Linked DNA regions of Homo sapiens. The protein of the gene in region 2 purifies or fractionates together with the protein of the main gene of each other region. This does not show direct contact. Each region holds a gene or a part of one and is shown on either strand. Other genes may lie near its edges. The genes, in order: PNPLA6, PCDHGC5 and EPDR1.

The links.
Region 1: the proteins of PCDHGC5 (region 2) and PNPLA6 purify together in Homo sapiens (affinity purification with mass spectrometry; one large-scale study listed by BioGRID and IntAct). This does not show direct contact.
Region 3: the proteins of PCDHGC5 (region 2) and EPDR1 purify together in Homo sapiens (affinity purification with mass spectrometry; one large-scale study listed by BioGRID and IntAct). This does not show direct contact.

What each region holds. Positions count from the first base shown.
Region 1 is NC_000019.10:7,549,135-7,552,783, reverse strand, and holds part of PNPLA6 (patatin-like phospholipase domain-containing protein 6), read right to left. Parts: intron 2,878-3,649; coding exon 2,672-2,877; intron 2,487-2,671; coding exon 2,355-2,486; intron 2,268-2,354; coding exon 2,144-2,267; intron 1,791-2,143; coding exon 1,677-1,790; intron 1,423-1,676; coding exon 1,347-1,422; intron 1-1,346. UniProt on the Homo sapiens protein: Phospholipase B that deacylates intracellular phosphatidylcholine (PtdCho), generating glycerophosphocholine (GroPtdCho). This deacylation occurs at both sn-2 and sn-1 positions of PtdCho.
Region 2 is NC_000005.10:141,487,494-141,491,242, reverse strand, and holds the start of PCDHGC5 (protocadherin gamma-C5 isoform 1 precursor), read right to left. Parts: upstream 2,163-3,749; 5' UTR 2,003-2,162; coding exon 1-2,002. Other genes in the region: PCDHGC4 (protocadherin gamma-C4 isoform 1 precursor), read right to left, coding at 3,628-3,749. UniProt on the Homo sapiens protein: Potential calcium-dependent cell-adhesion protein. May be involved in the establishment and maintenance of specific neuronal connections in the brain.
Region 3 is NC_000007.14:37,927,035-37,930,683, forward strand, and holds part of EPDR1 (mammalian ependymin-related protein 1 isoform 1 precursor), read left to right. Parts: intron 1-3,649. UniProt on the Homo sapiens protein: Binds anionic lipids and gangliosides at acidic pH.

The DNA.
Region 1 (3,649 bases), on a different chromosome or scaffold from region 2:
TTTTTTTTTTCTTTCTTTTTTTTTTTTTGAGATGGAGTTTTGCTCTGGTTGCCCAGGCTGGAGTGCAATGGCGTAGGCTCGGCTCACTGCAACCTCTGCCTCCCCGGTTCAAGCGATTCTCCTGCCTCAGCCGTCCAAGTAGCTGGGATTACAGGCACCCACCACCACACCCGACTAATTTTTGTACTTTTAGTAGAGATGAGTTTCACCACGTTGGCCAGGCTGGTCTCGAACCCCTGACCTCAAGTGATTCACCTGCCTCAGCCTCACAAAGTGCTGAGATTACAGGCGTGACCCACCGCCCCAGGCCTCTGTAATTTCTTAATGATGTCTTTTCTGCCACTACCGCCCTGCCCCCGCCTTGGGGGATCTAGGGCTCAGGGCCAATTGGGTAGAACCCCTGGAGGGAAAAGGGGTATCTAGGTTGCTGGGCTGGCCCAGAATCTGGCCACCACAATGTAGAAACTCAGGCCCTCATTTCAGCAGGCCTCCAACCCCACCGCACGCCCCATTCTGTTCTAGCTCACTGAAGCCACAGGCTGAAACAGGGGGCTACATCTCCCAGCAAGCTGTAACTTCAGAAGGCGAGGTGCCCAGAGTCCTAAACAACAATCCACAGACTATTTTCCATCATGGTATGGGGAGTTTTGTTTGTTTGCTGTTTTATTTTTTCTGAAACAGGTTCTAGCTCTGTCATCCCGGCTGGAGTACAGTGGCACGATCACGGCTCACTGCAGCCTCGACCTCCGGGCTCAAGCAATCAATCCTCCCGCCTCAGCCTCCTGAGTGGCTGAGACTACAGGCATGTGTCACCAAGCCCAGCTAATGTTTGAAATTTTTGTAGAGACGGGGGTCCTACTATGTTGCCCAGGCTGGTTTCAAACTCAATCTCCTGGGCTCAAGCGATCCTCCTGCCTCAGCCTCCCAAAGTGCTGAGATTACAGGCATGAGCCACCATGACGGCCCTGCCATCATATTCTGATCTAGGACTCCCTTTCTCTCAACGTCCAGGCCGTGGACTTCCCCAGCAAGCCCTGACTCCCGGGCAGACTACGCCAAGTCCACCGCCTAAGACTCCCTCCCCGGCACCACTGATTTACTTTCGAGCCCATTAACTAGCACGCCAGGGGTCGAGGACTTCGTTTCCCAGCATGCTCAGGAACACGAACTCCATTCCCCAGAATGCTCTGCACCTGGGTCCTACTTAGGGTTTGAAACCCTCAGGGGCACGATTTCTTCGCGGAACTCCATTTCCCAGCATCCCTCAGGAAAGAAGGCTTCCCTCCCAGCATGCTCTGGACGCCGGACTACATCTCCCAGCACGCTCTGGGCCGGCCGGCTCTCACCTGGGAAGGGTCCTTGCAGCTGCTGCAAATTCCCTAGAATTTTCTGGCTCAGTAGGTGGATAAGGCGGGTCACGACCTGGGGGCGTTGGAGGCCGGCATTTCAGTGAGACCTGGGAAGCGGCTGTCCAGGTCCCACCTCTCCCTCCTATGCCGGGGCTCCTGGGTGCCCGTTACCTGGGTCCCACCCCCGAGAGCCCCCGCCCTCACTCTCTCGCTTCGGCCCCTCCCTCGACCCCGCCCCTCTGTAAGCCCCGCCCACACACTAGGCCCGGCCCCCACCCCCCCGGAGTCCCGCCTCCGCCTCTCTGCCCCGCCCACAACAGGCCGCACCTGCGGGTACCGGCGTTTGATGTGACCCAAGGTGCCCTCGGGAAGCTTGGCCAGCTCCGTGTCGCGCACCGCGTGCACCGTCGTGGCTCGCGGCTGCCGGGTCAGTGCCTCCACCTGGGGGGCCGCGTGCATGATTGGGGCTGCTTGGGTGGGGAATGAGGAGGCCGAAGATGGGTGGAAAGGGGGCTGTACTGCCCCATCTAGGGCTCCCCTGCAATGGGGGTGTAGGGAAGCAAGCCTCGCTCGCTACCCATTAGAGCTCTGGGGAGAGGGAGAGGACAGGGATCCACGACAGGCGGAATCCCCTTTTTCCAACGAAATGAGGTCTGGGCGGGGAGTGGACTGGGTGACCTCAGAGGTCGGGAGCTGCATTCACCACTCCCTGGATTACCCGGGATGATGTGTGTGAGTTGTCGAGGGACTGGCCTGGAAAAGGCCAGAGGTCAGTGGGTGGGGGTCGCGCTCACCACGCCGATGAGGTCGCCGCGGCCGTACTCGCCCACCAGCTCCTTCTTGCCACTGCCTCGCTGGATCACGCTACGCAGCCGCCCATTGAGCACGATGTAAGTGCAGTCGGAGCGGTCGCCCTGCCTGAGTGGGCGTGGAGGTCAGCAAGGTCTGACCACCCCCAGGTCCCCACCCCTAGGCCGGGCCTGAGCAGCGCGGTGGGAGCTGCACCTGTACAGCGCGCGTCCCGCCTCCACTGCAGTCCAGTCGATGGCGAAGTCCATCTGGCGCACGAAGGGCGACATCCTGGCTGCCACCGTGTGCGCCGCACTCAGCACCACACTGGGCTGTGCGCGCATGATCCTGCAGGAACAGACTTGGGATGAAAGAGGAAGGCCTCAAAACCGTCCTACACCGGCGCTGGGAGGCCAGATCTGGGGGCTCCCTTCTGCTCTTCCAGGAGTGAGGTTGAGGGATGGGGTTCTGGCCACTCCCACGGGTTGGGGTCCTCCGAGTGCCACCCACACTCCAACTTCGGGCTGTCATACTCATAGAAGTCGGACTTGGAGATCCGCAGGAAGGTGCAGTCGCGTTGGGCTCGCAGTGTGAAGATGAGAGGTTCGCCAGTGAGCACCGCCAGCTGCCCCACCAGTTCCCCGGGCTGCGCTACGAACAGGCACACGTCCTCCGCCTTGTCGATCATGCGCTGGTACACGTGCAGGCAGCCCCAGAGCACGAAGTGCAGGCTCACGTCCTGTGCGGGCAGGGGATGTGATGAACACAGAACCCGGACAGCGTGGACCCCAGCTCAGGTCAACATGCCCCCACAGGAAAAAATTAAAGAAGAAAGGAAGGGTTAAGAAAAATATGAAGGCGCAGGGCGCGGTGGCTCACGGCTGTAATCCCAGCGCTTTGGGAGGCCAGGCAGGGGGGATCACTTGAGGCCAGGAGTTCGGCACCAGCCTGGCCAACGTGGCGAAACCTGTCTCTACTAAAATAAAAAAATTAGCTGGGCGTCGTGGCACATGTCTGTAATTCCAGCTACTCAGGAAGCTGAGGCAAGAGAATTGCCTGAACCTGGAAGGCTGAGGTTGCAGTGAGCTGAGATCATGCCATTGCACTCCAGCCTGGGCGACAGAGTGAGACACTGTCTTTAAAAAAAAAAAGAAGAAGAAGGCCAGGCGCGGTGGCTCACGCCTGTAATCCCAGAACTTTGGGAGGCCGAGGCAGGCGGATCAAGAGGTCAGGAGATCGAGACCATCCTGGCTAATACAGTGAAACCCCGTCTCTACTGAAAATACAAAAAATTAGCCGGGTGTGGTGGCGGGCGCCTGTAGTCCCAGCTACTTGGGAGGCTGAGGCAGGAGAATGGCGTGAAACCGGGAGGCGGAGCTTGCAATGAGCCAAGATCGCGCCACTGCACTCCAGCGTGGGCGACAGAGCGAGACTCCGTCTCAAAAAAAAAAAAAGAAAAAAAAGAAACATGAAGGAGAGAATAAAGACTTTGGATATAAGCACCATCTATA
Region 2 (3,749 bases):
CCTCCAGAACCAGCAGCACTGTGGCTGTGGAGGAGAGTGAAGGGTCACCATTGTCCCTCACCAGGACCACCACCTGCTGGGTGTCAGAGTCATCCTCCAGTAAGGCCCGGGCTGTGCGCACCTCACCAGTGTGTGTAGACACGAGGAACAGTCCTGGGGCTGTGGACTGTGGCAACAGTGAGTAGGAGAGCCACGCATTGTGGCCTGCATCAGCATCCACGGCTGTCACCTTGGTGACCAAGGAGCCAGGAGGAGCAGAGCGAGGGAGACGCTGGGGGGCTGAGTGTTCCCAGTCTGGCCGTGGGTGCAGCACAGCTGGGGCATTATCATTCTCGTCTAGGACAAACACATGCAGAGATGTGTTGGCATGCAATGGGGGAGAGCCGGAGTCTCGAACCCCCACCACAATCTGCAGCATCTGCAGCAATTCATAGTCAAAGGTACGCTGGGCAAAGATCCGTCCATCCTCTGGGTTGACATACACAAAGGAGGAGGCTGGGGCTCCCTGAACCTGATTTCCTACAATGGAGTAGGTGAGGCGGGCATTATCCCCAGTGTCTGGATCTGAGGCAGCCACAGTGCAAAGAAGGGAGCCCGGAGGCCGGTTTTCTAGGATGTAAGCAGTGTAAAGCTGCTGGTTGAAGCGGGGTGCATTGTCATTGACATCTGAAATGTTGAGCCTGATGGTGAGATGTTTGTGTAGGGAAGGTGAACCAGCATCGCTGGCCAGCAGCTCGATGATATAGTGGGATGTGGCCTCCCGGTCCAAAGGCTGGCTGGTTAGCAGCGAGTAGTGGTTCTCAGAAGGCTTAATCTGAAATGGCAGGTCCGGAGAGATATCAAGGCTCACTTCACCATTTCTACCTGAGTCCCGGTCTCGCACATTAAACAACCCCACTACTGTGCCCACTGGTGTGCTCTCTAGGACAGGGTTGGCCAAAGAGGCCAATAGCACCTCTGGGGCATTGTCATTGACATCCCCCACATCCACTTGAATCACACAGTGGCCCTCCATGGCAGGCTGTCCCTGGTCACGGGCTCTTGCATGAATTTCATAGAAACGTGACTCCTCAAAGTCTATGGGACCCAACACATGGATTGCCCCACTGCTAGGGTCTAGGCCAAAGAGGTTCCGCACTGCCTCAGATGTGTGGTCTCCAAAAGAATAGTCTAGTTGGCCGTTGGTGCCCTCGTCTGGATCAGTGGCATTGAGGCGGAGCAGCAGAGTACCAATGGGTGCATTCTCTGGGATTCCCACACGTAGAACTGAGGATTGGAAGGTTGGAGCATTATCATTGATGTCCAGCACGATGACAGAGATAAGGGTGGTCCCTGAGCGGGCTGGGGTCCCCCCATCCACAGCAGTAAGCACCAGCTGATGTCTTGCCTGGGCTTCACGATCCAGCTGCTGCTCTAGCACCAGCTCTGGGAATGGCTTCCCATCTTTTAGGGTCTTCACATTCAGAGAGAAGTGGCTGTTGGGGCTTAGAGTGTAAAAGCTCACAGTATTGGTGCCCACATCCGGATCCTGGGCACTGTCCAGTGGGAATCGTGCCCCAGATGCTGCTGATTCTGAGATGCGCATCTCTCGCTCAGGGGTGGCAAAGCTAGGAGAGTTGTCATTGAGATCCAGGATCTCTACCTCTACACGGATTAGCTCCAGGGGGTGTTCAGTCACCACCTGCACTGGCAGCAGGCAGCTGGTGCTGGCTCCACATAGGCTTTCTCGGTCAATCTTTTGATTCACTGCCAGGGCACCACTCATCAAGCTCAGGGAAAAATAGCGCCCATTCTCCTCAGAGCCCAATTGCAGCCGCCGGCTCAACAGATCTGTCATCTTTAAGCCCAGATCCTGAGCAACATTCCCCACCAGCGTCCCCGGCTCAGACTCCTCCACCACTGAGTAACGAAGCTGCCCAGACACCCAGCCCCAGCAGCACAAGGACAACATGCACAGCACTTGCCATTTCCCAGCGAGCTGTGGGAGTGTCTTGGGCCCCATGACCCAGAAGTCCCTTTGTGGAGAGTAAGTCTGTGCTGTCCTGTCTCCAAGGTAGACCCAGGGCTTGGAATGCAGCAGCTGAAGTCTCTTATGTCTCCTTCCAGCCTCTTAAAAACTGCTCGGAGGTTTGCCTGCTTGCAGCAGTTCTTAGTCACCGAGTGGCGGGGGTGGGCAGGGGGGAGGGGAGCTGAATTTGAGTGGAGCTGGGGAGCTGGAGGAGGAGAGGCGGGCTGGAAGAGCAGATCTCCCACCTCAGCTCTGAGTCTGATTGGCCAAAAAGTCTGTGTGCTCTCAACCAATTATGGAGTTTCCTCAATCCTGGAAACCTTGGGAACACAGGCTGCAAATCTGTGTCACAGAAGCTTCCTACCTCCCCACTCACTTCGTGCTGCAGGTTGATTCAGCCCCCTTGGCAGCAAAGTTTGACAGCTCAGATGGTACTCAACAGGGAAGACAAAGTGATACAAAACTCCTCAGCGTTCTGTCCCAGCAACTTCCTGCATGACTTCAGAAGCTTCCACCACTTTGCTTGAACCAGCAAAATCTTGTCCTTCTGGGAGAGGCAAAGCCCATGTATTCCCCCACCCTCCCCCATCCTGCTGAATGCTGCTAAGGTGAGAGAAAAGATTAGTAAGAACCTTGTAAAGTCTTGCCCTGACTCTCCAGCAATGCTTTGCGGAAATCTCAATGTCAGCTGACATGGGACTTAGCTTTTCTGACACCCCAGACCCCAAATGTGGAATGAGTGTTACAGTTTTTGGGTAGGGGAACATTTCTGGGGCTGAATCAGGTCACCCAGGAGGGTGGTCAGAGGCCAAGCATGGATGGCTTGGCTTCTAGGTTTCATGGTTTCACCAAATTCAGGAGAACTCAACTTAAAGATGCACAGGGTGGCTGTTTCTATGAATCAGCCAACTGTAAACCAGTTTTCTGACATAAGTGATTTCACTTACTGTTTTTTCCAAAGGTGATGACCAACCCGCCCCAACCTTCCAATTTACCGCATCTAGTTCAAATCCCCAGTAGGGACTTGATATGAGTCCTAAGACCCAGACCAAAAGATCTATGCCACCACTCTGATGCGTGCCTCTCTATTCCTTTAGTTCTCTCCTCTTTCTGCTGTCTCTATGTTTCAAATAGAGAGGTCCCTTCACAGTGTACTAGATACTGGGAGACAAAGATTTTATTTCCCCTCAATCCCTTGGGAAATGGTAACCTAGAGTTAAGGTACTTCAGAATCTGATCCCCTCTTTCAGGAAGAGTAGAGAAAACAGCCACCTTTGTCCAAGTGACTGCCTGGTGCACTGTACCCTGTGCACTGTAGCCTCCTGTGCTCCCACATTCCATCATCATGCTTCCACAACAGCCTGGCTCTTGATCACCAATTACTTTCATTTCTTACTCAGATATAGGCATGACCCGCCCCCAATGCTAAACTGTGACAACTCTGGTTAATTCACGAAACAGTTACAAAGCACAGCGTCTACCACATAGTTACCTCTTACAAAAATGGTGACATCACTATGGGCACTTACTGAGAGGCCAGTACTCTCTAGGACATGGCCTAGCCATATGCCTGGATCAGAATAACCCTCAAGCATTTGTTGAGCCTGCAAAGGTCTCACCTCTAGCCCATAGAGAAGATCAGAGGGTGGGCAGCTTGGGCGAACAGGCTCCCCTGCCATAGGTGCACTGGGTGACTTCACCATCATGAAGCTATCACTCCGAGTGGGTGCAGAAGCCAAGG
Region 3 (3,649 bases), on a different chromosome or scaffold from region 2:
GGCACAGCAAGATATTTCAAGATCATCTATACTTTTCCTGCCCCAGTCCTAGGATAAACCATTTTTCAAGAAGCCCTGGTTACTTTTCCTGGAGAATAATATGTGGAAGTTAGAACCTGTGCTCTGGTCATGCTCAGTGCTATCAGGTGGCACTGCTACCAGGTCCTCTCAATGGACAAAGCAAGGGGTGTTAAGTTTGAATACACACATCCCTCCCCACACACACTCATACATATATACACATTTACATCTATATTTATTTCTGAACCTCCAGTTCTAATCCATACAGGTGTTTAAACTGATGCCTTCATTCTAATCCAACACTACATGGTTCATTCTAGTTTTTTTTTTCCTTTCATTTTTGCTACTCCCTTCTCAGCCAGTGAGAAAACTGGCTTACTATTCAATTGCAGTAGGTAACCAGTCATGTATCATTACGCTGTCTCCTTCACACATGGGCTCTGCGCTCCAGGCCAGCCCATGTAGAAGCCTATCTTCCTTGGTCCTACCTAGTGGCTTTAGTCTAAATTGTTCAAGAGAAAGGAGTAGATGAAATTATGTTCTTAACATATGTTTGTATTGCTTTTGGATTCTCAGTATGTCATCATTACAAATCCTCAGAGGGTGTTTCTGTGTGACTGGGGGAGGCAGACTAATATAAAGTGCTCAATAAATCTATTTGATCATGAATCTTGTCTTGCATGGATTGGATTTTCATTTTAAGAAATCACGACTTTGTGAATATTAAGAGCATGACTTCTCCTTTGACCTTTACTCCATCATTTTGGTCTCAGATGGCTGGAGATAGCATATTCTTTTGTGAGCTGAGGAAGTCTTGACTGCTTGTGGCCTCCTGATCCTCAAAGAATAAACCATACTGATTTGCAATACTTGAGTTTCGCAATATTTGAGTTTTTCTTCAAGAAACAGATTTTCTTGGAAGCACACAAAGTTTGATTTAAGGGACTTAATTCAGTGTGTCTATAGACCCTGGATTTCAGACAATTAATGCTGAGATGGGGAGGGAGAAGCAGGCACTGGGGAAAAAAGATCCAAAGAAGATAAGCCCAGGAGAGTAAGGAGGCTGATGGAATGTAAGACAAATTTACGAATGGAAGCCAGAGGTGGTCACTATACTGCTTTGAAAACATCTTTACTTTCTCCAATAACCTTGAGCTGTTTCTTCCTGATTCTGACCTTGAGGATGGTGGTCAGGGGCAAAGTGCCCAAAGATCTGAAAATATTCCACCAATTAGTGGTTTGTTTTTCCTGGAATAAATATGATAGTCTTAGATTTCACCAATTCCAGTAAAAAATTTCTATTTTCCCCCTTAACATTTTCTTTTATTTTACCCATCTTTAAATAAAAAAAAAAAACTTCTCTTGATCTTACCAGCTGAAATCTCATTCTCCTCTTCTATTTAAAGCAAATCTCATGCTAACTACAATTTTTGTACTCCCATGCTCTCTTGAACACCCTCCAATCACTTTTGTCACCATTCTATTGAAAATACTCTGGTCAAAAGCAAGAAGCTCTACATTACTAATCAACCAATCTTTGATCAGTCCTCATCTTATTGTAGATTAATTCCCCAATCTTGATGCACTGTCTTCACTTGGCTTTCAACATGCTAGTCTTCTGGTTTTCCTTCTCCCACCTTATTTCCTCTCCTCAAGCCTTTTTGCTCTTTCTGCTCTTCTCTGGACTGCTAATAGTGGACTCTCCCAGGGCTCAGGCTCTCATCTCTTTATGTTCCTACCTATACCCTAATTTTGATATATACTGAATCTGACCATACCTCTACTGTTATTCTGGCCCAAACTTTTATTATGTCTCGGCTGGATGTTTATGATAGCCTCCTAACAGTTGTCCCCACTTCGGACCTTGCTCCCTTTAGTCTGTTCTCCACATAGAAACCCCAGGGGTTCTCTTGAAAATACGTCATGCCACTTCTTGGCTCAGGATCTGCTCCCCAGCCTTTTCCCTACCTTATCTCTGTCACCAGCTCACTCATTGTGGACCTGGCCTCAGCACGCTGACCCCATTGGCACTTGAATCTGTCATTCCCTCTGCCTAGAAAGACTTTTTCCTAAGAAGCTGCATGACTTACTCCCAAATTGAACTGTTTCTCTGCTCAACATTCTCAGTGCCCCCTCACTGCTTTATATTAATATATCCAAGGCACTTATGACTATCTGGCAGAGTGTTTAACGTTAAAGTTTGTTCCTTCATCTCCCCCACCTTCCCTCATGCACAATAAGGCTCCGTAAGGCCAGGGGTTTTGTATGGTTGTTGCTGTGTCTCTAACTCCTCAGAACACTTTACATTCTTTTCAACATACTATGTGGGACCTAAACGAATACTTGTCCCATATGAAAAGAGCTGTGTTCTGATGTCGGAGAAGGCGATTCCCAAGCTCCATTTTCTAACTGCTAAGAGCAGGGCCTGACTAATTTTTATTTTTTTTTGAATCAGTGAATGAGGGAAATGAATAACTGATAATATACATTCATTGTAGAAGGATACCTAAATAATAGATATGTATTTTCTTTCCTTTTTTCCTTATAATTAAATTTCTTAGACAATAAAATGATAGATTTATGTAATGGTTTCATGGTTTTTCATTTATATGTTACGTTATACCTCTTTTCTGTTAAGAATGATTTTTGACATCGAATTACACTGCAGTGTTTTGAAAAGTTTTCCAGTAGGGTTGAAGTGGAGGGCACACCACCACCTCCAGAGAGTGGATGCCCCAAACTCCTTTCGCCCATGAGCCACTCCCCCACTGCCCTCTCATCAAACACTGTCTTCAGTGTCTCTCTTGTGCCTCAATTTCAATTTTGGGGAATTTCACCCAATGTGGGCATTTGAGATTTATTTCTAAAGCACCCACAGTTTCTCAGAAGCAGTGCCTTTTTGAGTCGGGAGGCCATCTGAAGAGGAATCAGATCCTTAGCAGGGTGCCTAAGTTACCCTCAGTCCCCCCAAAGAAAGGAGAAACTCTTGGGATGATGGCTCCCCTAAAGAAGGCAACTTCTCCTGGAGGAAAAGGATATACATGCCTTGGATGACTCCTGCCCGCTCACAGAAGGCTGCTTTTGTTGTGGCTTAAAGTTAGATCTTCTGGTAGAGTTCTAGAATGTGGGCCCTGCCGATGAGTGACAGCCAAAAGCTCACCTTGGAAGAGGCACCAGAGTCACAGCCCCAGCTCTCTCAGGGAAGACGCTGCTCCAGAGCATCTCAGAAGCCACCAGGGAAGACAGTGGCAGATGGGAAGCCGGTGGTGCAGGGCCAAGGGCACAGCTCTGCCTGACGCAGCATTGTCAGCAATAGGTAACATATAACTTATGAGGAGTATCTGAGTACCAGCAGGCACTCTTGGGAGTGAAGGATGGGGGAAGAGAATCTGCCCCAGACTTCATATCCATTGGAAATGCCACATCAGGTGCTGTATCTTGGCATGGATTGTGTTTCCTGTAGGTGTGGGAGTTCTTCTTCTCACAGTCAAGCCCTCCACCTGTCCCTTGTCACACACCCTGTCCTTTTGAATAGAAATTCTCATCCTAGCCCAGCTTCAGGCACGGCCTGGCTTACCCTTGGACCCCAGAGATCTCACCCTTCTGAGGTCTCAACTCTCCTTAAGGA